Linked DNA regions of Homo sapiens: region 1 is linked to region 2. Evidence: fine-mapped expression QTL. A gene starts in region 2. The other region holds a variant in brackets. All regions are shown on one strand. Distances are from middle to middle. Region 1 overlaps KCNH4 (potassium voltage-gated channel subfamily H member 4). Region 2 holds the start of GHDC (GH3 domain containing).

The links. PIP is the estimated chance that this variant, and not a neighbour inherited with it, causes the effect.
Region 1: its variant is fine-mapped to the expression of GHDC in whole blood (TOPMed, PIP 0.98).

What each region holds. Positions count from the first base shown.
Region 1 is chr17:42,165,412-42,180,439 of GRCh38, forward strand. It overlaps KCNH4 (potassium voltage-gated channel subfamily H member 4), which reads right to left. Exons shown (of 17, transcript NM_012285.3): 2 at 13,382-13,615; 3 at 12,920-13,066; 4 at 12,689-12,816; 5 at 10,643-10,886; 6 at 10,168-10,325; 7 at 6,377-6,584; 8 at 4,696-4,890; 9 at 4,066-4,265; 10 at 886-1,135; 11 at 38-282. Among named protein-coding and RNA genes, the nearest start is that of KCNH4, 8.2 kb to the right of the region's middle. RefSeq lists a silencer at 4,480-4,774 and enhancers at 12,972-13,473, 14,124-14,691. The variant T/C (reference allele first, on the strand shown) is at 8,147.
Region 2 is chr17:42,188,693-42,203,720 of GRCh38, forward strand. It overlaps GHDC (GH3 domain containing), which reads right to left and starts at 5,802. Exons shown (of 10, transcript NM_032484.5): 1 at 5,701-5,802; 2 at 5,075-5,158; 3 at 4,625-4,902; 4 at 4,214-4,335; 5 at 3,549-4,050; 6 at 2,326-2,518; 7 at 2,140-2,211; 8 at 1,932-2,065; 9 at 1,493-1,578; 10 at 395-1,229. The coding sequence starts at 4,889. The coding sequence ends at 1,011. It overlaps STAT5B (signal transducer and activator of transcription 5B), which reads right to left. Exons shown (of 19, transcript NM_012448.4): 17 at 14,065-14,116; 18 at 13,648-13,755; 19 at 10,485-13,172. The coding sequence ends at 13,046. RefSeq lists enhancers at 4,290-4,820, 5,715-5,944.

The DNA of each region.
Region 1 (15,028 bases), 23 kb before region 2:
ACTCTGGAAGGATGGCGGTCATCAGGGGTGTACATACACTGGTGTCAGAGCCCTGGCGCAGGTTGAAGGTGAGGTCCCGGGGCAGGCCAGCCCGGAAGGCAGCCCCATACTCAGGATAGAGCCTCAGGACCTCAGCCAGCCCTCGGCTGCTCAGCTGCTGCAGGCCACAGTAGGTCAGAGCTTTCACATCAGCACTGGTCTTTAGCACGAAGTTTGGGTCTGCTCCCAACCCAGGCTCCTGCCCCGGCTCAGGGATATCTGCTCCAATCAGGTCCCCCTTCCCTGTAGGTAAGGGATGGGGACAGTCAGCTGGGGCAGTGAGAACGAAAGGATATCAGCTGGAGGTGCTCAGTGGATTTGAGGGGTGGTCAGTGTGTTTGAAGGATGGTTGAAGGTGGGCCAGTCAATGGGATTGGTGGAAATAACCAATGGAATTGGGAAAAGGTCAGTGCAGAATGACTGGTAAGGCTGGGAGACAGTCAGTGGGAGTGAGTAGGGCCAGAGGAACGATCAGTGGAATTGGGTGATAAAAATCACAATGGCCGGAGGGGTCAGGTCAGTTAGAGGGTAAAAGTGAATGGAGTTTAGGGTCACTGGGGAAAGGTCAATGGGGTTGGGAAGTGGAGCAATGGGAAAGGATCAATTGAGCTGGGGGACAGTCACCGGGAAGGGTTGATGGGTTGAGGGATGCCCAAGGGGATTAGGGGGAATTGTCTAAAGGCGATGGTCGTAGGGCGGAGGGACCGAGAGAGTACTCCTCAGCAGGAACTGTAGGTATCCACGAGGGGTATCCCATTCCCTAGAATCCTGGCCATTCCCAAGTCCTCAGTGGGGGTTGCGGGGGGTGGTTCCAGGGTAGGTAGTAGAGGGTGACGGTGTCCTTACCCAGGATGGCCAGCACCATGTTGTCTCGGAGCACCTCAAGCGAGCCGGAGCAGACATAGTAATGTGCCTGCAGGGCATCCCCACGGCGCAACAGGTACTCGCCCGGAGCGCAGAACGAGGTCTTGATGTGCAGCGATAGGGCCCGCAGGCAGCCCCTGCTCGCTGCCCCGAACAACGGCAGCTGCAGGATCTCCCGATTCAGGTGCATAGCAATGTCAGCTCTCAGCTCGTCTGGGAAGTCACGCAGTAACTGCATAAGGGGCATAGGTCATTCTGGCCATCCCCCTGCAGCTACTACTTGAGTCTACAAATGTGCTGAGCTGTCTTCAAAGAGAGAATTCCTCTTGCCCTTGCTTTGAAGTCACCCATTCCAGACCTTCAGTACAACCTCTGTGTCTAACCTCAATTTTGCTTGCTGCATGTACCTCACAACCCAATTTCAGGGGCAGAGACCAGGTCTTCTCCCATCAGTTCCCTGCCTGTGGCTACATGCTGGTCACTTAACCCCATCGTTCAGAAGCCATCACTTGGGGGTCAGCCTTCAACTGGGAGTCAGGAGACCAGGAGTCAGCTCGGCTCCTAAGTCCCTGTGGACCTTGGGCAACCCATTTCCGCTCGCTGGGCCTCAGTATCCCAGTCTGTATCTCAGTCTGTAAAATGCAGAGTTGTTATTAGACCATGGGCACTACCAATGACCTCTTATGGCCACACTGCATGTTCACATCCTCATATGGAGCCCCTTGGCCACCCTGGCTTGTTGAACTCTCCCCTTGGTCCCCCTGGGCTCCTGTGAAGGGTTCCCTCCTGGTTCCTCCCACTGCTTACTTCCTCATTTCCTCTCAGGCTCCTCTTCCTCAGCCAACACCCTGGACTCTCACTTTCCACACTCTCCCTGCATCATGGCAACTGGCCCCATGGCTTCCCTACTACCTGAGTGCCCTGAGCCCTAACTCTGGGTCCAGACCTGATTTCTTTTTTCTTTTTTTTTGAGGCAGAGTCTCACTCTGTTACCCAAGCTGGAGTGCAGTGGCACGATCTCAGCTCACTGCAACCTCCGCCTCCCAGGTTCAAGTAATTCTCCTGCCTCAGCCTCCCGAGTAGGTGGGATTACAAGCACGCACCACTACGCCCAGCTAATTTTGTATTTTTAGTAGAGACGGGGTTTCACCATGTTGGCCAGGCTGGTCTCAAACTCCCAGCCTCAGGTGATCTGCCCGCCTCAGCCTCCCAAAGTGCTGGGATTACAGGTATGAGCCACCGCACCCAGCCAAGAGCTGATTCCCATCTACCTACCGGGCAGCCTCTCTCTGGACCTCCCCCAGGCACTATACCCTCCTCTTGGTCTGACCCGGGACTCTCACCTTCATCCCAAAGCCCATCTTCCCCCTGTTATGCCTCCATCCCCACCCTTGGCCTAAGCCAGAAAACTGGGAGTCACTCTGAGCTCCTCTCTTGCAACCAGCAGGAGATTACCACGTCCCACAGATCCCATCCTCAGAGATACCTCACCAACCCATTCCCTCCAAGATCCCCACACCACTCCCCAGTCTAAACATTAAGCAGGATAAAATCTAAATTCTAGGCCATCCCTGAGCTGGGCCTGCTGCCTCCCAGCCCATGTCGTGCCTTCCTGCCCTGCCTTCTCCCTCCGCAGCACTCACATGCCCATTCCTGCGGGCTTATTGAGCCGCTTTCAGTTCCCTAAAGCGCTCACTCTGCTCTTTTGTGCCATCACTTCTGGCCTGTGTCCCTAAGGCCATTTCTACCTGGCATTGCCACCTTCCTTGACTCCTCCCCACCCAGGCACAATGAGGACCTGAAGGCACCGACATCCCTCCTTTACAGCCCCATTCAGCGCGGCACTCTCTGTTCATCTTTCTGCCTCCCTCAATACTCTGGGTCTCCCTGAGGGCCAGGGCTAAGTGTCATCATCTCTAAGCTCTCTGTGCCCAGCACCAAGGCTGGCCCAAAGCAGGCACTCAGGAAATGTTGGCAGAAGGGAGAGTCGCATCAGCTGGGCCCTGAGCTCTTTCATTCCCTTATTCAAGTGCAAAGAAACAAGAATTTGGCCGGCTGTGGTGGTGCACGCCTGTAATCCCAGCAAATTGGGAGGCTGAAGCAGGTGTATTACGATGTCAAGAGTTCGAGACAAGCCTGACCAACATGGTGAAACCCCGTCTCTACTAAGAATACAAAAATCAGCCGAGCATGGTGGCAGGTGCCTGTGATCCCAGATACTCAGGAAGCTGAGGCAGAAGAATTCCTTGAACCTGGGAGGCAGAGGTTGCAGTGAGCTGAGAGCACACCACTGCACTCCAGCGTGGGCGACAGAGCAAGACTCCTTCTTGAAAAAAGAAAAAAAGAAAAGAAGCAAGAATTTGTATTTTGGGCAAATGTGTGCCCTTGTGAACAATACCTCACCCCCCGGGCCCTGTTTGCCTCCCTTTTATTTTATTTATTTATTTTTTTATTTTTATTTTTATTTTTATTTTTGAGACAGAGTCTCGCTCTGCCGCCCAGGCTGGAGTGCAGTGGCACAATTTCGGCTCACTGCAAGCTCCGCCTCCCGGGTTCATGCCATTCTCCTGCATCAGCCTCCTGAGTAGCTGGGACTATAGGTGCACGCTGCCATGCCCGGCTAATTTTTTGTATTTTTAGTAGAGATGGGGTTTCACCGTGTTAGCCAGGATGGTCTCGATCTCCTGACCTTGTGATCCGCCCACCTCGGCCTCCCAAAGTGCTGGGATTACAGGTGTGAGCCACTGCGCTCAGCGCCTCCATTTTATTTATTTATTTTTTTTGAGACAGAGTCTAGCTCTGTCACCCAGGCTGGAGTGCAGTGGCATGATCTTGGCTCACTGCAGCCTCTGCCTCCCTGGTTCAAGTGATTCTCGTGCCTCAGTCTCCCTAGTAGCTGGGATTACAGGCGTGCACCACCACAGCTGGCTAATTTTCATATTTTTAGCAGAGACAGGGTTTCACCATGTCGCCCAGGCTGGTCTTCAACTCCTGACCTCAAGTGACCTGCCCGCCTCAGCCTCCCAAAGTGCTGGGATTACAGGTGTGAGCAGCCGAGTTCGGCCTGCCTCCATTTTAAGCTACAGGGGCAGCGACTCCTTCCCCACCCCACTGCAGGGCCACGCGGAGGGCAAGGGCAAGATTGGAGACCCTGCAGGCTACCTCGTTGGCGTCGATGCCGCTGTTGACGGCCCACGTGGTCTGGAAGTATTCGAGCATGCGCTGCTTGAGCGGCCGCGGCAGGCGGTGCACACGGATGAAGTCCTTGAGGTCCTTCATGCGGCTGTGGTAGAGCGAGCGGCGCGAGTACATGCGCTGGATGATGGCTGTCACGTTCCCGAACACCACAGCGTGCATCAGGGCTGCAGCAGCAGCAGCGGGCCTGTCAGGGGCGGCCACCCCTCTGGCCACCTCCCCAGCTCCCAAACCCACCCTGTCCTGGACCAAGAGCCAGCGGGCTCCTGTGTGCCTACCAGGTGCCAGGCACTAGACTAAGGGTGGGGAATAGGGAGTGGTCCAGAGATGGGTAACACCCCATGCTCCTCTCAGGCCTCCCCACCATTAGGTCATGAACCTGGGTTTCCCATCCCCTTTGCAAAAGTCCACGCCTGTTTGTGGCATCCCCAGGGCCAGCACATAGTGGGCACTCAGGAAACGTCCGTGAATGAATGCGTGACTGTCTGGACTTGGGTAGACACCTCGGGCAGATGTCTTGCCCTCTCTGGGCCTCAGTTTCCCCGTGCATGCTGGGCTTCGCAGGGCCCCACTGAGGCGTGGCAGGTCTGGCCTCACCGCCTATGAGCATCGTGCAGATGGAGAAGATCTTCTCCGCGTCGGTGTTGGCACACACGTTGCCAAAGCCCACACTGGTGAGGCTGCTTAGAGTGAAGTACAGTGCCGCGATGTAGGCGCTGCGCCGTGATGGGCCGCCCACCGAGCCATTGACATAGGGCACCTCCAGACGCTTGCCCAACTCATGCAACCAGCCTGCAGGGTGGACGGATGCAGGGAGCCCTGGCTGTGCCAGCGGTGGAGAACCAGGGTTCCCTGAGCCACCTACGCTTGACCTTCGGCAAGTATTTATACACAGGTTGGCACAGGAAATGTGGGGAGTGGCCTGGGCCTGTGTCTCCCCATGGTGCATTGGTTACAGTTGCATTCCAAGGCCGCCAACTAACTACATTGCTGAGTGTTCAAAGGCTCCTGAAACTTTCTAATAGTTTATTGTGCACCTGCTGTATACAAAGTGTTGGGGAATTGACCCAGCCAAACACTCTCCCTGCCCTGGTGGAACCTATAGCCTGGAGGGGAAAGAGACATGACATAAATCATTACAGGTGGGAGGTGAGCTCCTGGAAGGAAAGTATTGTATAGGGTGTGTTAGGAATCCTAACAGGTTAGGGAAAGCCAACCCATTGGCAGTTGGGGGTTCTGGACATGGTGCCTGGAAGGCATGCTCCTTAGGACAGGACATTTTGGTTGAGACACATGGAACCGAAGGAACATTGTTCCAAGTGAGGCAGGGAACGGAAAATCCATCTAGGTGGAGAGGGAAGACAAAAGAGGAGGATTCCAGAGAGGAAAAGAACATGTTCCAGGCCCAGCATGAGAAAGCAGTATGTCCTGGGTCCAGGGGAGAGGCTGGTGTGGCTGCAGCGCAGGGAGCACGGGAGAACGGGAAGGCAGGTGGGGAGAGAAGGGGCACAGGGCCGCCCAGGGTGTGCAGTGAGTGTGGACTTCATTTGGAGGGCAGTGGGAAGCCACTGAAGGAATCCCAGAAGGAGTGTAGTGGGTCAACGTTGAATCCTGGAACACCCATTTGGCTGTGGTGAGGATGGTGGTTGTGGGGGGGATGAGAAGGGGATTGGGAAATCAGTAGGGAGGCTATTGCACAGGCCTGGGTGAGAAAGGGAGGTGGAGTGGACTGGGAAGGGGCAGAGAGGATGGAGAGAAAAGGTCAAATTCACGGGACATTTGAGAGGTGGTATTGATGTGGTGGGCTAGGTGTGGGGTAAAGGAAAGGGAGGTGTCAGGGACCATGCCCGGGATCTGACAGGCCTTTCAGAGGGATTCCAAGGGCCTGGGGCTGTCTCCTGGCTCATGGCCATGAAGCTTGGAGAAGAAGGGATTGATGGGGGCAGAGATGCTAAGCTCTTTCTGGGACTTTTCACGTGCTGCTCCTTCTGCCTGAAACACACCCCTCCACCCTCAGAGTGTTTCCTGCGTTGTACTTTGATCACTATCACTGGTCTTGCTCCCCCACTAGGCTGTGAGTTCCCCCCAACCTGCCCCCAAAACAGAGCCCTTGTCTGCAAATCAATATTCCCATGCTTGATCCAGAAAGAGCTCAACGCATGTTTGTTGGATGGATAGAGGAATGTGGGATGAGGGGTGTGGGTACTGGTGGAGGCATCAGCTTGGGGATGGGACAGGTGGACAGGTGGTCTGTGAAAGTTTGGGGTCGGTGGCTCACCAATGTCCCAGAGCAGCGGGTCATTGGCCTCCATCTCCCGGCGCCCGATGACATACCAGATGCAGGCCATCCAGTGGGCAAGGAGCGCAAAGACCGACATGAGCAGCGTGAGCACCACAGCACTGCACTGAGAGTACCGCTCCAGCTTCTGCAGCAGCCGCAGCAGCCGCAACAGCCGCACTGTCTTCAGTAGGTGCACCAGCGAGGTCTGCAGGAAGGTGGCGGGGGAGGCTGTCAGCAGGCACACCTCCTCCGAGCCCTCAGAGTCCCCTCCCAGGGCCTTCCCACCAGACAACCTGGAGCCAGGGCAGGCTGCAACAGGAAAGACATCTTTGCTGTCCTGAGAAAGTGGCCAAGGAATGCAGCAGCAAGGGAATAATAACAATAAAACAAACAGTGGCTAACACTTTGTAATTACTTTTTTTTTTTTTTTTGAGGTAGAGTCTCGCTCTGTAGCCAGGCTGGAGTGCAGTGGCGAGATCTCAGCTCACTGCAACCTCTGCCTCCCAGGTTCAAGCGATTCAAGGCTGCCTCAGCCTCCCTCCCCAGCTAATTTTTGTATTTGTAGTAGAGACAGGGTTTCACTACATTGGCCAGGATGGTCTCGATCTCCTGACCCCGTGATCCACCTGCCTCGGCCTCCCAAAGTGCTGGGATTACAAGCGTGAGCCACTGCACCCGGCCTTAGTAAGTACGTTCTATGTGCTTAGCCAGGCACTGTGCTAAGCATTGGTAATCCTTATTTAACAACACACACACACACACACACACACACACACACACACACACACACACTTATACCTTTAGTTCAATTATCATCATTCCTAATTTGCAGATGAATGAACTGAGGTTCAGGGAGGCTAATGACTTGTTCAAGGTCACAGACCAAGGACACGATAGAGTTGGAACTCAGGGTGGGCATCTGGGCTGACTGACACCACAGTCCACCTTGTGCTCTACAGCCACTAAGCACTGGGAGATGGTAGGGGAGCCGGCCCTAGTCAGAGTCAGGGGATAGGCAACAGTCTCTGCAGAGCCCCAGTAGCGACGGCAGCAATTGTGATGGGGACCCCCCTTTAAGACATGGAGAAGCATAGTGGAGTGGGGACAGGCAAGGACTTGAGGGCTGGGGGAGGTTTATGGACACTTCTTCTTGTGGATCGGCTGCAGATGAAGAGTCAAGCAGAAGAGTTGAGGGGGCAGGAGAGCAGGGACTGAGGGAGGCTGGGCTGTGCTAGGGGTTGACGGAGATAATGGTACCTGGTAAGTGTCCCATATTCACTAATATTACCCCAAGTACCATCTGCATTGTGGTTATCAATATTGATTAGCCCTTCAATCTTGGAGATGGGCAGGGCTTATCTTCTGGGTGGGAGCAGCCTGGCAGCTAGGACTGGAGGCTCTGGGGCAGTGCCTGGGGAACTTGGTATGAAAGCCCCTCATTGCCCCTTCCTGGGCCTCCAGGAACATTCCCCACAGCCCTGGCCCTACACTGCTCCTGGACCACCTCGTGCAATTTTTCTCTAATTTTAGGTGAAGGAACTGGAAAGGAGGTGGCTCTGATTCCTCCATATGGACCCTCGCCAGGGTTTAATGCCTACCCCCAGCTCCCAGAGCCCTTGACTGCAAGCTTGAGTTCTTCAGGGCTTCCCTCAGTCAGCTGCCCTTGGGCCACTCTCTTGGGGATACTCCTGTCATTCTCCTTGGACTAGAATATCCAGGCCTGGCTCCTTCAAGTCTGCAGCTCTGCCAGTGCCTGCTCATCTTCTG[T/C]CTCTGCTCTACCTCTCTCTGGCCCCCAGTGGTATTCCTCATCTCACCAGACCATCCACTCAGGGGCCCTGGTTACCTGGGAAGCAGGGTGGTATGTTGGAAAAAATACTAGACTGGAAGTTTAGCGATCTGGTTCTTTTTTTTTTTTTTTTTTTTTTTTTTTTTGAGACAGAGTCCCTGTCGCCCAGGCTGGAGTGCAGTGGCGCAATCTCGGCTCACTGAAAGCTCTGCCTCCCGGGTTCAGACCATTCTCCTGCCTCAGCCTCCCAAGTAACTGGGACTACAGGCACCTGCCACCACGCCTGGCTAATTTTTTTTGTATTTTTAGTAGAGACAGGATTTCACCATGTTAGCCAGGATGGTCTTGATCTCCTGACCTCGTGATCCGCCCGCCTGGGCCTCCCAAAGTGCTGGGATTACAGGGTGATCCACTGCGCCCGGCCAAGCTGGAGTGCAGTGGAGCTATCTTGGCTCACTGCAACCTCCACCTCTGGGACTCAAGCAATTCTTGTACCTCATCCTCCCGAGTAGCTGGGACTACAGGTACGTGCCAGCACACCCGGCTAATTTTTTGTGTTTTAGTAGAGAAGGGGTTTCACCTGTTGCCCAGGGTGGAGAGACCTGGTTCTAATATCCTGCCTGCCCCTGCTAGGTATGTGACCTTCAGCAAGTCACTGAACCTCTCTGAGCCTCTGTACCTACCTCTGAAAAAGGATAAGCCTCTGCCCTGAAGGGTTCCCGTGGGGCTCCCATGTGATGATGAGTGTGAAAGAACATAGGGAACTGTAACGTGCTCCCAAAGGGACCTGAGAGGAGGGGCAGGGGGCTCTCTGTAGTGTCCCACTCCCCAGCTGATGGTGCCTGGTGGGCATAGAGGGGTGGGCGCACCCCTGGGGAGGGGTAGGGAGATCTGCTCAGAATGGTCAGAGCCTCGAGGCAGACGTACACACATGCACGTGTGTGGGAGCACGCACACACGTGTGCACAGCCAGGAGAGGAGGCCCACAGCCCGTTGGCGGCTAGTTAAATTCGGCTGCGTGTAGGTGGTTTCCTGCTATAGCTGAGTGCAGGGAGAGAGCACACAAGGAAACTGCTCCCCACTTGCCCGCCCCACACCCAAGGGGGCCTGGGGACACGGGGTAGCACTGCCCCACCCTGGACTTGAGAAGACCTACTATCTGCTGGCTGGGGCCACAGATGACCACTCAGGGCACCTCCAGAGTGTCCCCAGGGATCTGTGAGGACTCAGGTCCTGGCATTCTTTGCCTCTGAATTCACCCCACAGCCTCTACCTTCTTGTCTAGGTTTACTATGCTCCCCCAAATGCTTGCTGTCCTCATCTCCTTCCAGCTAAATCCTACTCACCCTTTAAGGTCTAGCTATACCATCTCCGCCTCCCTCAGGAAACCTTCCCAGACCCCTCCAGCCTCTGCCCAACAAGGGCGCTTTTGCTTCCCAGGTGCTGGCCAGACTTCAGATCATTTTTACACACACTCATGTTCCAGCCTGGAACTCCAAGGTCAGCCCAGCCCCTCTGTAGCATACCCGGGCCCCATCTTCCACCCCCATTCACCTCTTCTGTCCCTGATGTGCTCTGTGGCATTCCTGCCCCCTCACCAGTTTGGCTGTTTAGAGGCTGAATCCTTGTTCCCTTTCCCCACAGTGGCCATGCCCCACACAGTGCTTTGCAGACAGCTAAATGCTCATCAGTTGTTTGTTAAATAAAAATGTGAAAAGTACCACTCATTTGGCATCAGACCAATGCCGCCTTGGTAGCCATAGTTAGCTTTTCATTTGTCTCAGCTTCCCTCAAAGATTGTGAGCTGAGCTCCCCAGGATCACAGACCCTCGGGATCCTCCCAGTACCTAGCACAGGGCTATGCCCAGAGCAGGTGCCTGATAAATATCTGCAGATGGATTGATGGGAAGGGGCATATCTGGGTTTGGGGTCAGTCCCTTCCTGGAAGATGCTGTGCTGAAGTTGGGAGGTTGGACTGGATGGCGGGATGGAGGTCACTCACCACGGTGATGTTGAAGATGTAAAGCAGGTCAAAGGGCAGAGCAGCAATAAGGTCGATGAAGAACCAGGTGGCCAGGTAGTGGAGGCCAATGGAACGAGGAGCAGAGATTACCTGGCCGGACTGGGACACATAGGTGGTGCGGAAGTTCAGGATGATATCTGGGGGTGCAAGAGGCTATTACTGGGGGGCCTTGGCAAAGGGGTCAAGAAACCGACAAAGCTGGGAACAAGCTTTGGAGACTGGAGGAGGAGGCAGGCATGGAGAGATAGATTGGGCTTCTGGCTGGTCCTTAGGGAGGATAGGTTACAAGGCTGAAGGCTGCGGGGAGCAGGACACATGGGCCATTGGGACTTAAAGATGCAGAAAGGAAGGGGCTCTGAATGTCTGGGTCATGTGGGCCCCAGGAGTGGGTGAGGCTTGGCCAAGTGGATCCCCCCAGCCGACCCACCAGGGTGGGTGAGGCAGAAGGTCTGACCTAGGATGAAGAGCATTTCCACGGCGATGTCGCTGACAAGGGTGTGTCGCGAAGTGATGGGGGTGTCATCGTCACCCGAGAAACAGACATTGTAGGGGACGGTGACCGCAACGTAGAAGGTGGCAAGGAGGATAAGGCCGTCCCAGATGGCCTTGGAGACGCTGTAGTGGAGGAGGAGGCAGCGAGACCCCCCCACGGAGGCCACCTTGTACTCGGGCACTGATGGCTTTGGCTCAAACACGTTCTAAGGGGAGAGGGGTGGCGGTTGGGGACACTTGAGGGAAAGAGGAGCCAAGATGGGGGGTGGGAAAGGCAGGGGATGGGGAAAGTTAGCAGGTGGGCACTGCAAGGGCACTTTTGACCATGAATGAAAGGAGATAGAAGGCCAGGAGAGGGGCGCAGAGGCTGACACCTGACATTTTCTTCTCCTGCCAAGTATTTCCCAGGCCCTCCTCCTTTTTTTTTTTTTTTTTTTTTTTTTTTTTTTTGAGATAGGGTCTTGCTCTTTACCCAGGCTGGAGTGCAAGGGCATGATCTTGGCTCACTGCAACCTCCACCTCCTGGGTTCAAGTGATTCTCCTGCCACAGCCTCCCAAACAGCTGGGACTACGGGAACATGCCACCACACCTGACTAATTTTTGTATTTTTAGTAGAGATGGGGTTTCGCCATGTTGGCCAGGCTGGTCTTGAACTCCTGACCTCAGGTGATCCACCCACCTCAGCCTCCCAAAGTGCTAGGATTACAGGTGTGAGCCACTGTGCCCGGCCCCAGGCCCCTGTTTGAACCAATCATGTCTTGTCAAGGGTATTTATGAGGCTTGACATTCACCCAACTTGATTTTTACATTTTTAAGTTTAGAGACAGTCTCACTCTGTGCCCAGGCTGGAGTGCAGTGGCACCATCATAACTCACTGCAGCCTTAAACTCCTGGGCTCAAGCTATCCTCCTGCCTCAGGCTCCAGAGTAGCTGGGACCACAGGCATGCACCACCATAGCCAGATAATTTTTTTTTTTTGAGAGTTTCACTCTTGTTGCCCAGGCTGGAGTGCAATGGTGCAATCTCGGCTCACCGCAACCTCCACCTCCCGGGTTCAAGTGATTCTTCTGCTTCAGCCTTCCAAGTAGCTGGGATTACAGGCATGTGCCACCATACCCATCTAACTTTGTATTTTTAGTAGAGATGGGGTTTCTCCATGTTGGTCAGGCTGGTCTTGAACTCCCGACCTCAGGTGATCCGCCTGCCTCAGCCTCCCAAAGTGCTGGGATTACAGGCATCAGCCACTGCGCCTGGCCTCCAGATAATTTTTAATTTTTTTTTTTTTTTTTAGAAAAGGGGTCTCACTATGTTGCCCAGGCTGGTCTAGAACTCCTGGCCTCAAGCAATCCTCCTGCCTTGGCCTCCCAAAGTGCTGGGATTACAGGCATGAGCCACTGTGCCTGGCCCAACACTCATCCTACTTGAGAAGAAGACTATGACAAATCGGCACATGCCCTAGCTTGAGGGGTACCTAACTTCTCCCTTAAGTTCCTCTTGGGTTCTGGGGGCCCAGTGGGGGCTGGGTATATCCCAGCAGGGAGCAGAGGCTGGCATAGCCCACCGCATTCCCTGTATCCCTAACAGAGGGTTGGGGACTCAATCCCCTGGCTTGGTCAGGATCCTAGGAGGTGGTACACAGGTCTAGATGCCAGGCCTGCAATGAGGGCTTTCTCCCTAGAACTATAGCAGCTTGCAATTTCACCACCCATGGTATAACCCTATCACCCCCGGGCAGGTGAGGTCATTGCTGCTAGAGCAATGTGACATCATCGGAGCAAAGTAATGTCAATCACCTAAGGGAATGAGGGAGATAGGGATAGAAGGATGTTGGGGGAGGATATAGGATGGAGCATATACCATATAGAGTAGTATATGGGAAATGGGTGGGCAGAGGAGCAAGCCAAGGAGGGACACCAGACAGACAGGGAAGTGGGGAGACAGTGGCAGGGGTGCCTCAGAATCAAGGCTGGAGGACTTGGGAGATGTTGGGTTGGGGGTGGGACTCACATTATTGGCCTTCATGCCTCCCTGGCCCCGGCGGCCAAAGTGGCCGGTCAGTCGGTGTAGGACAGTACGGCTCCGTCTTCTGGCAGACCGAAATTTCCAGGTGGCTCCCCTTCTACCAAGGGAGTTTTCTGTTGGGAAGAAAGGTGCAGAGATACGTTGGGGCACATCCCTTGCGGCTGGTTAGGCGAAGGCTTCTGACCATTCACACTGCCCGTCCGGACTTGCTGTTACCGTGATTACTGTCCCCGCGGCCTCCTTGGGGGCCAAGTCCTGGGCTTCCACTCTGAGTGATATCCTTGAAGGAAAAGAGGAACAGCACGACCTCCCCCATCTCATTCTTGATGGGCATCATGTCCAGGAGGCACCAAAAGGCTGAGCCTGTAGGCATGGAGAGAGGGAAGGGAGGAGCATGGGCAGCCCCATGGCATGCCTTTCTCCTCATCCCTCTCATCCTCCTAGACATAGTTAAGAGCTTGGCAAAGCAAGAACCAAAAGGAACCTCAGAGATTCTGTCAGCCGATTCCTTCATCTTTCAAATGGGGGAACCCAGGACCAGAGAGGTCAGGGATACGCTCCGTCACAGTCAGCTTTTGGCAGTGTGGGGACAAGCACTCAGACTCCTACTGTGCCCAGTGCCCTCTGGATAAGGCTAGGGGTCTAGGCAGAGCTGCAGGGTGGGGTGAGCCCCCTCACCATCCTTGCGGTAGAAGCAGATTTCAGCCCGGTGCTCCTGGTGGCCCTCCAGGGCTTTGTGCAGACGCTGCAGGGCTGGCTCACTGGTCTCTGGGCCGTAGAGGAAACGGCAGCTGCAGGTCTTCTGCATGACCTCGGTGCGACCGTAGCCTGTGAGCTCGCAGAAGCCGTCGGAGCAGTAGACGATGGGAAAGCCCCGTGTGCCCTGTGCGTTGGCCAGCAGGAAGTTGCTGTCTGTGGGAAGAAGAGGTCAAGGTCAGGTCAAGGCTGGGAGGCGAGCTAGCTTCCAGGTGGGCAGCACTTCCTCTAAGTTGGGGTTAGAAGTCACAGAGCCAGAAGCTTCCCAGGTTTCCATGTTGCTCCTGACCCCACTTTGGGATATTCTGAATTGAGAATTGGAGAAGTTGGAGCAAAGAGACAAGGACTTGAGACAGGACTTAAGCAGGGTCTAACGGGGAGTTGGAGAAGGACCCCAGGAGGTCATGCCATCCATCCCCCTGCCTTCCAACTGGTGAGCTGTCACTGTAGAAGGCAGTATAGCATGGTGAGTAAGAGCCTGGGCTCCTGCAACCCTCCACTGCCACTTACTAACTGTGTGACCTTGGGCAAGTTGATGACCTCTTCTGTGCCTAAGCTTTCCTTATTTGCAAAGTAGGGCATAATAGGCCTTCCTCACATGGTCGTTGTGAGAGTTACATGAGTTAACTTGGGGAGAACAAGTCCTAGCACATGGTAAGTGCTACTCTGAGAAGGTGAAATTTTTTCCCCACATTCACTTGGCTTTCTTCCTATTACAGAGTAAGCAGGGCAGAGATTCTGATGACACCACACCCATTTATTGATAGGAAACCAAAAGGCAGAGATTATCCAAACTCACAGATCTCCTTAGTGTGGGGGCAGACAGTGATGAGTGCTGTCTTCCTTCCCTGCCTTCCAGAGAAGGTCCACTTTTTAGCATTCTTGTAGCTGCTTTCAGGGGATCTGCCCCACTGCTCAAAGTCTAATGGGAGAGGGCATTGAGCGTATAGCTCCAGCAACCCCCAGCAGCAGAACCCGAGCTGTCTCCCTCCAGCTCCAATGGGTGGGAGGCCAGGGGGACTCCTGTGGGCCATCCAGGGACAGAGACTCAGCTAAGAGATGGGGCCTGTGACACAACCAGTCCTGGTGCTCTAGGAGGGATGACTGTCTGGGGGCAGGGAGGCTGATGGGGACACTGAAGGTGCCTGGGAGGCACTGGGCTCTGGGCACAGCCTCCTTCTTCCATCCCAGGGCCTGTTGCCCCGGTGATGGGCGCTATGGAAACAAGGTGGTGGGGAAGAGGGTAGGGCCCGGCGGCTCAGTTTCCGCCCTCGGGTACCGCTCCCCCACCATCCAGATCCCGGCCAGGGTTCCCGAGGGAATGGCGGGGTTGGGGGAGGTGAGGGCGGGGAATCTCTGGGTTCCAGAGTGGGAAGAGGGAATGGCGGGAGAAGAGGCGGGGGAGGAGTGATGTGGCTGTCCAAGGTGCTGAACCTGAAACCCAAGCTACGTTGGGCGAGCTGGGAGTTCCCACCGTCGCACAGACCGCTCCCCTCCTCCTGCCTCACCCACCTTAGACACTGACGCCCCACGATTTGGGGGCGCGCGACCTCAATCCAAACTAGGTCC
Region 2 (15,028 bases):
CCAAGATGGAAAACCTTAAAACTCCAGTCCAGGCAGTGGGAGGGAAGGAAGCCAAAATCTAGCCCAGTTTCTTTCTTTCTTTTATTTTAGCCTCTACAACCTTGTGGAGGCTGCGTTTCCTCATTAGTATGGAACAGTGAACCCAGATGGTCTCCGGAGTTGCTTCCTGCGGCGATGCCTTATGATGTGAAGTAATAGCTCTCCCTTCCCCACCGCAGAAGTGGTTTGTGGGTGCTGGCCTAGGATGTGCCACGAGTCCTCCAAGGCTCCTGTGTGCGCATGCAGCCTTGCCAGGCCCAGAGCAGAATGTTGGGGGAAAGTCCTGGAGCTCAGTGGGGGAATGGCTGGGCCGGGGTCCACTCCCGTTTCCCCAAAGCAGACCCTGAGGCAAGAATCTGGGTGCAAGAGGTTTATTTGGGAGCCATCCCAGGAAGCCCAAGGCGGGGGAGTGGGGAAGAGAGGGAAGGGAGAGCCCCCGCAGGAAGTACATGAATGAGTGGGTTACTGCTGCGGGCAACTGGGACTCCATCCTGCTGGGCATCCTCTGAGAGTTTATGTAGAATACACTTCAGAATTGTCCTGCTCAAGGACAATGAAGCTGAGGTCCTGCTCCTTATTGACTCAGGGTTGCTGCTCCTGGGGACATTAACCCCCCAACACTTCTAGCTTGCCCAGTGCACTGACTGAGCACACAGCTGTGGCCACCAGAGAACCTCTTTGGGCTGTGATACAGGAAACCATCGGTGTGCATGGTAACTCTCTAGCAGTGTCCTTCATGCCGGGACATGGGGACACGGGCAGGCACTGCTGGCATCTGCTAACCCCGGAGGCCCATACTTCAGAACCGGTCAGCTGGGCCAAGGCCTCTCTAAGGCCCAGCGGCTCTCATGGGCAAATGTCAGGTGACACAGAGTCAGAGACCCTGGCCAAGGACTCCCCATCCGGAGAGGTCCCAGAGGGAGGGGCGAGGTGGCCTCTGGGGGGAGCTGGGCGGTGGGGCAGGACTTGACTCAGGACACCACCCTCTCCTGCAGACACTGGGCCAGGTGCCTGTGCCGAAGGACCCGGGGCATCGCAGGGGGGAAGGGGGAGGAGGGGCAGGCAGCGAGGGCTGCCCGGAGTGCTCGGAAGGCTCCCTGCCCCACCAGGTGGACTCTGGCAGGGCCCACGCTGCCCCAGAACCGCAGGGACTTGTAGCGGGGAGAGGCTTCCTGAAGGCAGTGGTCCAGCTGGGAACAGAACAGCCTGAGTGAGCTGGTGTGTGACTGTGAGTGTGCACACGAGGCGTGTGTGGCTGTGCCCAGGCTACATGTGTTTAGAAGTTTTGTGTGGACAGGTGTGTGTCTGTGGGACTTAGCCCTCCCCTCCCAGAGCCCCAGGGAGCTTCTCCTCCGCCACCCCTCTCCTTCCCATCAGCCCTGATCTCCATGGCACCCTGGGAGTGTGCAGAGTGAAGGGGTCTACAGTCAGACCCTGTCCTCGTCTCCTTTACCTTGTCTCGATTTTCCTCTGACAGATTCCTCAGCCCCCTCAGCGCCACAAACACCTCGTAGTGGGGAGCAGAGCCCGCAGAGGAATCTGTGAATAGACCCCATGTGCACACATACTTCCGGTGAATGGGCAGCTGCCAAGTCTAGTGTCCTCTGCCCTATCTGTTCTTCCCCACTCTGAGATTCATAGGGAAAAAAGAGTTTCTTGGTGGGGAGTGGGGTAAATGGAGAGGAACCTAGAGCTTGATCCTAAATAGGAGACAGATCAGGAAAGAAAATGGGTAGAGACTGCAGCAGGATGGATGAGAGTTAGATGCAGAGAAGGACTTTTGTAGGAGTAGTAAAGGAGGCTTATCTCTTTCCTAGCAGTCCCCTGGCAGGGGAGGTAGGAGTTGAAGGGTAGCTCAAGGATGGTAGGCAGGAGCCGGTGGGGAGGCTCACCCAGAATGCTGCTCTCCACACAGCCATGGTCCAGCAGCTTGGCCCCCGCCCACTGCCCCACTGCCCGGCCCAGGGCCTCAGAGAACAGGTCTTCACCAATATCTTCCCCTCGCACACTCAGGGTCTGGTCCAGCCTGAAGAGGAGGAAGGGAGAGGCAGTGGAGCCCAGGACACAAGGATGGCCCTTCAGCTCCCCGGGGTCACCTACCTGCAGATGAACCTGACGACTGGACACTGATTGTAGGCACCAACCACTCGCACCACATCACCCAGGCGGCACCTGATGGGGTGCAAGTGGGAGTGAGGTCGGGCCCAAGGTCTTCTGAGCTCATGCCCCAGGCCCCCAGCACGGTCCCATAGGGCCCCAGGTAGCAGGGGCTGTGCAGCTGATCACCTGGTGAGGCTGGCGCGGTCCGTCAGCACCAGCTCATACTCCTTGCCCTGCTGGGCCTCGGCCAAAAGGAGGGTGGAGGCAGCTTCCTCCTGGGTGCCTTCCTTGACTGGGAGCAGCTCGATAAAGGGGGCCCCAGGGGGCAGAAGGTAGAGCCCATGGGGCTGCTCTGGCTGTAGGTTTAGGCCCAGCACCCCTGTGAAAGCAAAGCAGCCTCCTCAGCGTCTGCTGGTGCCATCGCTTTCTGCCAGGCAATAGCCCCTCCTGGATCCCAGGCCTGATCCTCTGAGCACCTGATCCTCCTGCTGCCCTTCCACCACATCCTTCCTGGCTCCCCCAGCCTCAGCGGGCTGCCTCTTAGGCCCTCACTGGAAAGAGGCAGAGTGCTGTGGTCCTGGAGGGGGCAGACTTGGGAGTGAATCCTGGTGCCACATGAATTTGTGCAAGACTCTTTTTTTTTTTGAGACAGAGTCTCGCTCTGTCACCTAGGCTGGAGTGCAGTGGTGCGATCTCGGCTCAGTGATTCAGTGATTCCTGGGTTCAAGTGATTCTCCTGCCTGAGCCTCCTGAGTAGCTGAGATTACAGGCGCCTGCCACCACACCTGGCTAATTTTTGTATTTTTAGTAGAGACAGGGTTTCACCACATTGGCCAGGCTGGTCTTAAACTCCTAACTTCAGGTGATCCACCCACCTCAGCCTCTCCCAAAGTGCTGGGATTACACCCGTGAGCCACTGCCCCGGCCTTTTTTTTTTTTTTTTTTTTTTGAGACAGGGTCTTGCTCTGTCACCCAGGCTGGAGTGCAATGGCGCGATCTCAGCTCACTATAATTTCTGCCTCCAAGGTTTAAGCAATCCTCCCGCCTCAGCCTCCCAGGTAGCTGGGATTATAGGCGTGCACCACCATACTCCGCTAGTTTTTGTATTTTTAGTAGAGATGGGGTTTCGCCATGTTGGCCAGGCTGGTCTGGAACTCCTGACCTCAACGATCCATCCACCTTGGCCTCCCAAAGTGCTGGGATTACAGGCGTGAGCCACTGCACCCAGCTACAAGACTCTTAACCTAGAGAGCCTGAATTTCTTCACTTGTAAAAGGAGGCTGCTGGCCCTAGCATGCAGCTTGTTGGGGAGGATTAAATGAGATGATTATGTAGGGCCCAATGCATGGCTGCTTGTCATGTGACCACTGACCGTTGCCCCCACCTCACTGCCCTTGAGTCCCACTGACCTCCCGAGGCAGCATAAGCAGGAGAGAAGAAGGCTAGTCCTTGGCACCACAAGGCCCCGAGGGCAGCCACAGCCTCGGCCTGGCCTCCTGCATCCAGAGTCACCACCACCTGCAGCTTTGGCCAGAGCCGAAGGGCCAGTCCCCGTGGCCCCTGCTCTAGGGCCTCCCGGAGCTCAGCTGCCCGTTCACGGAGAGGCGCTCCAGGGTTCCCGGCAGCTATCGCCCCAGCTAGCTCTTCACCATCAGTCTCCAGGCCCAAGAAAACATCCAGAAGTTCGACAGCCGTCCCAGCCTCCAGTGCCCTCAGCCCTGGGGACCTCAGTGCGTCCAGCAGCAGGGCCCTAGGGTCCTTGGTTCCAGGGGTGCCCACCTGGCCCAGGGTATTCCCAGGCCAAGGCAGGGGTCGGGGCCAAGGGGATGTAAGCGTCACACGGGCAGTGCGTCCCTGAGCCAGCACTTCTGGGTAGGCCTTGTTTAGGGCTGCCAGACCCAGCAAGGTGGCCTGGAGGAGGAAAGAGAGAATGTTGGTCTGGTGTCAGAGCCAGACCCAGAGCCCCCATTTGGGGGTTCTTTGCCCACCATGACTGGAGGGTTTGGCTGCAAGTCAGAGGTCTCTGGTGGGACTGGGCTGTGGCCAGGACTGGGCTCTGGCCATCCTAGATTACCTGCAGAGAGGCCTCCCCAAGGTCCTGGTTTGAGGTCGGGGGCAGTGGCTGCTCTCCACTGTCTTCCTGCTGGGTCTGGCTGGCCTTGGTCAGAGGGAGATGATTCCGGAAGGTGCTTATGTCTATAGCCCCAATGACAACAGAAACGCCTCAGGAAGCCAGTTTCCCAAGAGTTTCAGGCAAGACTGGTGAGACCCTTGAGGGAGGAACCGAGAATAGGCCTGGGGTAGAGAGGATGTAAGGACCCAGCATGGGAAATTCATCTTGGACAAGAAAGCCAGTCCTGGGTCTCTGGGTCAGGCCACTCCGTTGGCAGTGGAGGAGGTAAGGGGGCCATCAGGCTCTGGAATCTGACGGTCCTGTGGGGTTTCTTTCTCTTTGGGTCACCTCCCCAGACCCTGGGAAACACACCTGTGCTCCTTCTGAGGGAACAGTGGGGGCGCTGGGCTCCCTGTAGACACCACCTCAGGGCCTGCTGCTGGCTCTGGTGCACATGGAGCGTGCTCTGCTCCAGCCTCCGCCGCTGCCAGGTGGCTGCCCAGACCAGGGCCCCCCATGCCACTCGGTGCTGGAGGCCAGCAAGCCAGGACAGCCTGGCATCCTGGGACCGCTGCTGCCTGAGCAGGGCCAATGTTGGCAGCAGCAGCAGCAGCAGCAGCAGTGGCCACAGCAGCATCTCCAAGCAGCTCCTGGGAAGAGGAAGGAACCGAGATATGGGGGCATGCAGCAATTATCCATTTCTCCTCCCACGCTCTACTGCATACAGGAAAACCGAGGAAAAATGAAATTGGGAAGAAGGCAGGACCCTGTGGGGCAGGTGATGCAAAGGAGAGACTATCAAAGCTTTGGAGTCCCACTGACCTGAGTGCAGATCCTGCCTCTGCCGCTTGTTAGCTGTAGGGCCCTGAGCAATTTAGTGGGCTGCACTGAGCTCTGTTTCCTGATCTGCAAAATGGGAATAAGAATAAGAATGCCTCTTTCAGAAGGTAGGGGTGGGCCGGGTGAGGTGGCTATCATCTGTAATCCCAGCACTTTGGGAGGCTGAGGCAGGAGAATCACTTGAGCCCAGGAGTTTGCAACCGGCCTGAGCAACATAGGGAGACTCCATCTCTACAAAAAATTGAAAAACTAGCCCAGCGTGGTGTCACACCCATAGTCGCAGCTACTTGGGAGGCTGAGATGGGAGGATCCCTTGAGCCCAGGATGTCAAGGCTACAGTGAGCCAAGATCGTGCCACTGCACCCCAGCTTGGGCAACAGAGTGAGACCCTGTCAAAAAAAAAAAGAAAAGAAAAAAAAGGGAGAAAAGAAGGAAGAGGAAGGGAAGGTACAGGAAGGGTTTCGGACAGGGTCGGTCGGGCACACAGCAGCTGCGTAACGATATCTCTTGCCCACTCCCGAGTGGCTTTGCTTTCTCTCGGGATCCACCCTGTCCCAGCTCCTTGTCCCTCCTGAGCCCCAGGCTGTGGGGTCCATGCCCACATGCACCTGTCACAGCCCACTTCTGCCTACTCCTGGCACGTGACGGAGACCCCTGGGTGACTCTGGGTCTCAGCACACATCCGGCCAGAAAGAAGGAGCGATGGCTTTAAAAGGCTGGGCCCCAACTGGGAAATCCGGCCACCAGGCCTGAGGGAGGAGCTGAAGGAGGGGGGTGCTCTTAAAGGGGCAGGTCGCCTACAGGACTTCATGTCGGGTGCTAGCCCAGGCTGGCAGTTGGGGCAGTTAGGACCAGACTAGCATGGTCCTCAAACTTGCGCAGGTGAAGGAACAGAAAGGTGTGTGTGGGAAAGAACGCCATTAAGCCACTTGAGCTGGGAGAGGGGCAAGCTTAAGAACTCTTAAAACCCCAACTCAGCTGGGCGCGGTGGCTCACGCCTGTATTCCCAACACTTTGGGAGGCTGAGGCGGGTGGATCATCTGAGGTCAGGAGTTTGACACCAGCCTGACCAACATGGTGAAACCCCATCTCTACTAAAAATACAAAATTAGCCAGATGTGGTGGCACATGCCTGTAATCCCAGCTACTTGGGAGGCTGAGGCAGAAGAATCACTTGAACTTGGGAGGCGGAGGTTGCAGTGAGCTGAGATTGCGCCATTGTACTCCAGCCTGGGCAATGAGCGAAACTCCGTCTCAAAAACAAACAAAACAAAAACAACAACAAAAAAAACCCCATCCTCTCCCTCAAGGTAGTTGAGAAAGAAAACAATTTTATTATTGAATAAGCATTCAACCACAATGTGATGTACATGACAGGTGATCTGCTAAGAGCTTGCAAAGAAGGGAGGAAATCTTACTTTTTTGTATAGCCAAGCGCATACAACCCATTACATACACGTTTTCAAGATAAACAATAACGAGTCCTCAAGTAAGAGGACTTGTCACATATAGTTTATCTTTTTTTTTTTTTTTTTTTTTTGAGACACAGTCTTGCTCTGTTGCCCAGGCTGGAGTGCAGTGGCACAATCTCAGCTCACTGCAACCTCCACTTCCCAGGTTCAAGCGATTCTGCTGCCCCAGCCTCCCAAGCAGCTGGGATTACAGGTGTGTGCCACCACGCCCAGCTAATTTTTGTATTTTCAGTAGAGATGGGGTTTCACCATGTTGGCCAGGCTGGTCTCAAACTCTTGACCTCAAGTGATCTACCCTCCTTGGCCTCCCAAAGTGCTGGGATTACAGGTGTGAGCCACCACACCCAGCCAGTCACATAGTTTATCTTAACTTTACATGGTTATTAGGTGAACATCTGTGTTAGCTTGCTGGCTTTATCCCAAGGAAAATTACAAACTTCTTTTTTTTTGTTTTTTTGGCAGAGTTCTATTCTTGTTGCCCAGGCTGGAGTGCAATGGCACGATCTTAGCTCACTGCAACCTCCGCCTCCCAGATTCAAGCAATTCTCCTGCCTCAGCCTCCCGAGTAGCTGGGATTACAGGCACGCATCACCACACCCAGCTAATTTTTTGTATTTTTAGTAGAGACGGGGTTTCACCATGTCACCATGTTGGCCAGGCTGGTCTCAAACTCCTGACCTCAAGTGATCCACCTGCCTCGGCCTCCCAAAGTGCTGGGATTACAGGCCTGAGCCACTGCACCCAGCCAGTCACATATAGTTTATCTTAACTTTACCTGGTTACTGGGTGACCATCTGTGTTAGCCTGTTGCCTTTATCCCAAGGAAAATTACAAACTTCTCTTTTTTTGTTTTTTGTTTTTGAGACAGGGTCTTGATCTATTGCCCAGGCTGGAGTGCAGTGGTGCGATCATAGCTCACTGCAACCTCAACCTCCTGGGCTCAAGAGATCCTCCTGTCTCAGCCTCCCAAGGGACTGGAACTACAGGTACGCACCACTACGCTCAACTAATTTTATTTTTTGTAGAGACGAGAGAGCTCCCTATGTTGCCCAGGCTGGTGTGTTCTTGACCTAGGCTCTCAAAACACTAAAACCACTCCCTTTCTCCCCTTACTTGCCTCTGGATACCTTTGAGAAGAGAGCTACTACTTGCTGAGCACCTCTCTTCCCTTCACAGCTGAGCTTCTTTCAACAGGTCTGTTCTCACTCTGGCTAACTCACCTCACTTTCACGTTTTTTCTCGCTGAGATCTTGCATTTGCTTTTATTATTTATTTAAAGACAGGGTCTTGCTCTGTTGTCCAGGCTGGAGTTCAGTGGCCTGGTCACAGCTCATTGCAACCTTGAACTCCGGGGATCAAGCAATCCTCCTACCCCAGCCTCTGAGTGGCTAGGACTACAGGCATGTGCCACCACACCCAGCTAATTAAAAACATTTTTTTTTTTTTTTTGTAGAGACAGGGGGTCTTACTATGTTGCCCAGACTGGTCTGGAACTCCCGGTCTCAGCGATCCTCCTACCTTGGCCTTCCAAAGTGCTGGAATTACAGGTGTAAGCCACTAGACCTGGCCCAGTAACAGCTTTATTAGATATAATTCACACACCATACAAATCACCCATTTAGTGTACAATTCAAGATCTAGTATATCCAGAGATATGTGCAACCAACACCACAGATAATAACATTTTCCTTACCTCAAAAACAAACCCTGCAGAGTCTCTCTGAGCCTACTGTGCCTCAGGAGACTGCCCAATTCGTTAAATAAAATAAAATAAAATAAAATAAAATAAAATAAAATAAAATAAAATAAAAAACCCCAAACTCAGGCTGGGCGTGGTGGCTCACACCTATAATCCCAGCACTTTGGGAGGCCAAGGCAGGTGGATCACCTGAAGTCAGGAGTTCAAGACCAGCCTGGCCAACATGGCAAAACACTGTCTCTACTAAAAATACAAAAATTAGCAGGGTCTGGTGGCCGGCGCCTATAATCCCAGCTACTTGGGAGGCTGAGGTGGGAGAATCGCTTGAAACTGGGAGGCAGTGGTTGTAGTGAGCCGAGATGGCGCCACTGCACTCCAGTCTGGGTGACAGAGCGAGACTCTGTCTCAAGAAAAACAAACAAAAAAAAAAACAAAACAAAAAAACCCCCAAACCCTGTATCCTTTCACTATTACCTCCAAACTCCTTCCCAGCCTCTAGGCAACCTCAAATTTACTTTCTGTCTCCATAGATTTGCCTATCCTAGACATTTCCTATAAATGGCATCATATAATATGCGGTCTTTTGTACTTGGCTTCTTTTCTTTTTCCTCGCTCTGTCACCCAGGCTGGAGTGCAGTAGCATGATCACAGCTCAAGTGATCCTCCCACCTCAGCCTCCTGAGTAGGTGGGACTACAGGGGTGCACCACCACATCCAGCTAATTTTTGTATTTTTTTGTAGAGATGGGGTTTCACCGTGTTGTCCAAGCTGGTCTTGAACTGCTGCACTCAAGTGATCCCTCGCCTCAGCCTCCCAAAGTGCTGGAGTCCCAGTCATGAGCCACCGTGCCCGGCCTGGCTTCTTTCATCTAGCATGATATTGTCAAGGTTCATCCGTGACAACATCATGTCCTGTGTGTCAGCACTTCATTCCTTTTTATTGCCGTATATTCCATTGTACAGATATACCATAATACATTTTGTTTATTCATCAGTTGATGGACATTTGGGTTGTTTCTGCCCTTTGGCTATTATGCATAATGCTGTTATGAACATTTGTCACAAGTGTTTCTGTACATATATGTTCTCATGGTTCTTATGTAGATACCTACAAGTGGAATGGCTGGGTTTTTTGTTTTTTTTTAATTTGAGACAGAGTCTTGCTCTGTTGTCCAGGCTGGAATGCAATGGCATGATCTCGGCTCACTGCAATCTCTGCCTGCCGGGTTCAAGCGATTCTCCTGCCTCAGCCTCCCAAGTAGCTGGGATTACAGGCGCGTGCCACCACGCCCAGCTAATTTTTGTGTATTTTTAGTAGAGACGGGGTTTCATCATGTTGGCCAGACTGGTCTCGAACTCCCGACCTCAGGTGATCCACCTGCCTTGGCGTCCCAAAATGCTGGGATTACAGGCATGAGCCACCGTGCCCGGCCCTATTTGTTCCTTAAGAGCCAGCTCCAGGCTGGGCATGGTGGTTCACGCCTGTAATCCCAGCATTTTGGGAGGCCAAGGCAGGTGGATCACCTGAGGTCAGGAGGTCCAGACCAGCCTGGCCAACATGGTGAAACCCCGTCCCTACTAAAAATGCAAAAATTAGCCGGGAGTGGTGGCGCCTGTAATCCCAGCTACTCAATTAAAATAAAAAAATAAAATAAAAAAAAAGCTTGAGTTGCTCAGTGGCCTTCCTGCATGTTCTTTTGCATAATGACTTTGGGATGCCTTGATTGCAGCAGGAAGCGATATCCTAGCATAATCAGTTGTGGTAGCTGCCTTTCTCCAACTGTGAGCCTCTGCAGGGAAGGCACCATTTCTCATCCCACACACAACGCTGAACTCAGGGTCAGGTACTCTAAATGTGCTGAATCTTAAGGACAGGCTTTCAGCCGGGCGTAGTGGCTCACGCCTGTAATCCCAGCACTTTGGGAGGCTGAGGTGGGCAGATCATGAGGTCAGGAGATCGAGACCATCCTGGCTAACAAGCTTTCTGGAGTCAGGAGGCTAGGAGACCATCATTCTTATTTTCAAAACATCATATGAGCAGGAAGGTATGAAAGGCCCCATCTGCCATCAGAGCTAATGACGTGCCCTCTGAGGCAGCCAACTCCCAACCACCCAACCAGTTCCCTTTTTCAGGGTCACGCTGATGACTTGAAACTTTTCCGTGTTCAAGCTGCCCTCCCTTGGCATGTGACAGAAAAAAGTAAAAACAGGACTCAATACCATCCCTTCAGAGGAAGGCTTTATTGTAACATAAAATACACAACTTTGTGACTGTAACTCTGCATAGGATATATTTCTTTTTTTTGAGGCAGAGTCAAATTTGAGGCCCCAAATTGTACACAATACTTTTTTTTGGTGGCTAAATAACTAATCTGCCTTGACACTAAAATATGTATCTGAAATAATTTCACCAAGTTTTAAAAAGAAAAATTATAAAAAGTATACTTTCATTTTAAGTTATATTCGATTTTAGTCTCCCCCTACCCCCTAGAAAAAACCTGCACATCTCACACACGGAGCTGAAACTTTTGAGGACTTGTGTGTGTCTGGGAGTGGGTGAGAGGCTGATGGGGTCGAGACACACCACTACCTTTATCTTGTGGTTTGCAGGAACAAGGAGGAGAGAGAAGATAGAACGCAGAGAGCGAGCACACCTTTCATCAAAAATCTCCACTCTCTAGGCACAGCCTCGGTAACACCGAGGACAGCTCACAACTGGACAAGCAGGGAAACCCCAGCTCAGGGAAGCCACACTCATCAGCTCTCTTCCTCCCCAACCCAGTGCCAACTGCAAAGTGAGCCAGGACGGCCTGGCTGCTCTGTCCTCAGCAGGCCCTGGGGTGGGTCCACTCCCAACCTGAAAGTGTATCAAGTCTGACCCCCCAACCAGGGTTGCTGGAACAGAGAGCGAGGTCTCAGAGGCAGGTGCTGGTGAAGCATCTCTGGGAGACGGGCAGGGAGTGACTCTACGAGCCTGGATCCCTGAGCAGGCAGGCTCTCCTTCTCACCCTTCCCCGATGCACCCATCCTCATGGTTGGAATTTTCATCAAATCTTGAGGGGTAGGGAGGGGCTGAGTGGGATGCGGGTAGCCTGCTCCTCAGAGGCAGAGAGACTCTACTGCCTGGCATAGAAAAATAAATCAGTGTATGAAACCAAGCCAAGGCAAACGGCAGCTTTAAAAAAGTCATCTTCCAATAAATAATTTACTATAGAGGAATATTTTTAACGGCAAAACACTGATAAATTCAGAAGTTATTTTTGTAAAAAAAATATGTTTATTTACTCTCATGTATAAAAATAAGGTTTTTGGGGCCATCCTCTCCTGGGGGTGCCCATGCCCTTCTTTTGGAGAGGGGGCCGAGGGGTGACCTTTTAGGCCTTACCCGTAAGCTATTTTAATACACCTGCTCACCCCCCTCTTCCTCCACTACCTGCTGTAGCCCATTCCTTCCTTCTGGTGTAAAGCTACAGAAGAAGTCGTGGAACAAAATTATACCGAGGCTTTTTTTGTTTTGTTTTATACTTTTATCAAACTCCCCAGCAAACTTGCTGACTGCATTTCCACACATTACCAACACCTGCCAGGACTTCACAGCAGGGTGACCCGCTAAGCAAGCTGGCCTAGGTTCAGCCCACACTGCTGCTACCTACTCTTCAAGACATTAGGTGTGAACAGAGAAGGGGAATGAGGTGACCTGGGTTTGAATGACCCAGGGCCCAATGCACAAGAGAGAATTTTGATGTCAAATTAGGGTGGCAAGGAGAAAACAAAAAAGATCCAACTTAGAAACAGAACCATGATTCAACATTTGCAAAAAGCATCATCAATAAGCCTGAAGAAGGCCACGGACTGTGCATCCGCTGGCTCAGAGAAAGGCTGGGCAGCCGGAACAGCAGCTTCCTGGGTAACCAGGCAACAATCTCAGCGCCTGGGAGTCAGGGCTGCGCACTCCACTCTGGCCAGAACACAAACGGCATTGGCACTGTAAGCTCTCAGTTACGTGGCCCTCTTTTCTCTCCTCTATTTCTCCAAACATATGTGCACACCCAGAGGAACTGAGTGGCAATTCCAGGGTGCGGGCGGGCAGGAGGGGAGAGAGGACAAAGAGAGAATAAGATGAGCTAAATGTTTTGTGAAAAGCCACCGCCCATCCGAAAGCTTGTGACTTCCCTTGCCCCAACAATCTTTGTAGGTTGCCCCTTTTCCCATTCCTACCCAAGAACACAGGGGTGGGGGAGAGGGAAGGCTCTCTTTGTCAAAAAGCAGTTATCTACATTTCAGAAGAAAAGCAGAGACAATCACGGTTATATATCAATTGCTTGGCAGACAGAGTGACGAAGACTCACTGGAGCACATGTGCTTTCTCCTCCCTTTGTCCTTCTCTTATTCAAACAGCCACATGTCAAAGTCCAGCCACTCTTAAGACACATGGCCAACTTCCAGGCTTCACGAAACTCACTGCCTTTTTGCACAAAGTAAAAACCACCACAGCTTCTGTCTGTGGCCCCTCTGCTACAACTAAACTCTCAGACAGTGAGAGGGAGAAACACCATAACGTGCAAACACGCACACACACACACACACACACACACACACAAACACATACTCGCACTCCCTTCGCTGGTGCCACCATGCACAGAAACACTAAGGTCACAACTAGTATTAACACTTCACATTATGAGTATTGTTTCAAAAGAGAAGCGATTCATGGAATTAAAACATCCACAAGAGTGATTCCTCTGGTGAAGATGAAGAAGCTGAAGATGGAGAGGTCGCGGGGTCACGATTGTGCGTGCGGGATCCACTGACTGTCCATTGGCCGGCCCAGGAGCTCCTCCACACGCCGCGCTACGTCCATTGTGTCCTCCAGATCGAAGTCCCCATCGGTGTCAAGGACTGAGTCAGGGCTTGGGAGGGAAAGAAGAGGGATGAAGGGAAGGGGAAAGCCTGCCAGAGACCACCCCAAGCCCCACAGGCCACCAGGGGAGCAGTCTGAGCCAGCCTATGCCCTCAGCCTGGGGCTTCATGGGAAAAGAACAACCATTCAAACAGCTGGCTGTACAGCAACTCAGACTGAAATACCCTCCCCTGTTACCTCTCACACCGGCTGTCCAGACACATCACAACTCCACTCAGTCCTTAGAGCAAGAAAAATCTCCATATTGAGAGAGGGGAACAGATGACATTTGCCCAACCCGACTCTAAACCACCAATCACTTCTGGTCAAATCTCTCCCTCCCAAAGGCCAGAGCCCGGGCCAGGGCTGTGTGGTCTCAGACCTAGAGGAGCTCTGGATTCCTTTGACCCCAGCCCTCCAGGGGTCCAGCCTGGGGCCAAGCCCCCAGTTCCTCCCCTGTGGACCCCCACAAGAATGCCACCTACTTCTGTGGGTACATGTTATAGTGAGCCTGGGGACACACAGCTGGGGAGGGGGCCTGGTCCATGTACGTGGCGCTGCCGCCCCCGGCATCTGCAGATGCGTTCACAAACCTGCAGAAGGAAGAGAACAGAGCTTCAGCTGCCAGGGAGGCCAGGGCAGCTGACTTGGGGAGGGGACCAAGGGGTATCTTTGTCTTTCTCAGGGTGTAGAAGGACAAAGTGCCCCACTCGGCCCTGGGGCTCCAGCTACAGGAGTGGGGCCTCAGGTACTGGCATAGCATCACCAAGCCCAGGTCCTTCCCCAGGGCTGAGACAGTTTCCCCGGGGGAGCGGAAAGCTGGGCCAGGATAAGGATGGGAGGCAGGGTCTGGGGGAGGAGGAAAGAGGCAGAAGGAGAGCCACAGCCACCTGGACACTTACTCAGGGACCACTTGCTTGATCTGTGGCTTCACGTATCCATCAACAGCTTTAGCTGCCAAGGGAAGAATGTAGTAAATCAAAGTTCTCAAGTGAAACAAAAATGTGATCTTCCTTATGAATCACATCTTTTCTTAGGACAGAACACAACCACCTAACTTATCTAAGGATATGACACAAGCACTTAATATTTTTTTGTTTTGTTTTTTGAAACAGTCTCACTCTCTCATCCAGGCTGGAGTACGGTGGTGCAATCTCGGCTCACTGCAGCCTCCGCCTCCCAGGTTCAAATGATTCCGATGCCTCAGCCTCCTGAGTAGCTGGATTACAGGTACACCACCACACTTTGGCTAATTTTTGTATTTTTAGTAGAGATGGGGTTTCACCATGTCACCCAGGCTGTTTTCTAACTCCTGACCTCAAGTTATCTGCCCACCTTGGCCCCCCAAGGTGCTGGGATTACAGGCATAAGCCACCGCACTTGGCCAAGCATTTAATATTTCAATCTGTTAGGAAGACCTGGTAGAGGAGAAGGTCAGCACTAAAACTGAAATTCAAGATATCTTCCAAATTGGCTTGGATGTTTCAATAAATTCTTCAAACCATGGAAACTATGTACTTCAATACAAATCTAAGTCAAGCACTAATTGCATACTAATTAAAAAAAAAAAAACACCTTGAAAAGCTTAAAGTCCAAGATGCAGCAGAGAGACAGGATTTGTTCTACCTGACCCAGGGGATAAAATCAGGACCAGGAGGGGCAGGTCATAAGAGGACAAATGTTCAGTCATGCAGGGAAGAATGTTCTAAGTAGAACTGCCAGGAAAAGAAATGATTTATCTTAGGAAGGACTGATTTCCTTGTCACTGGAGGTTTTCTTTTTTTTCTTTTTTGACAGAGTCTTACTCTGTTGCCCACACTGGAGTGCAGTGGTGCGATCTCAGCTCACTGCAACCTCTGCCTTCTG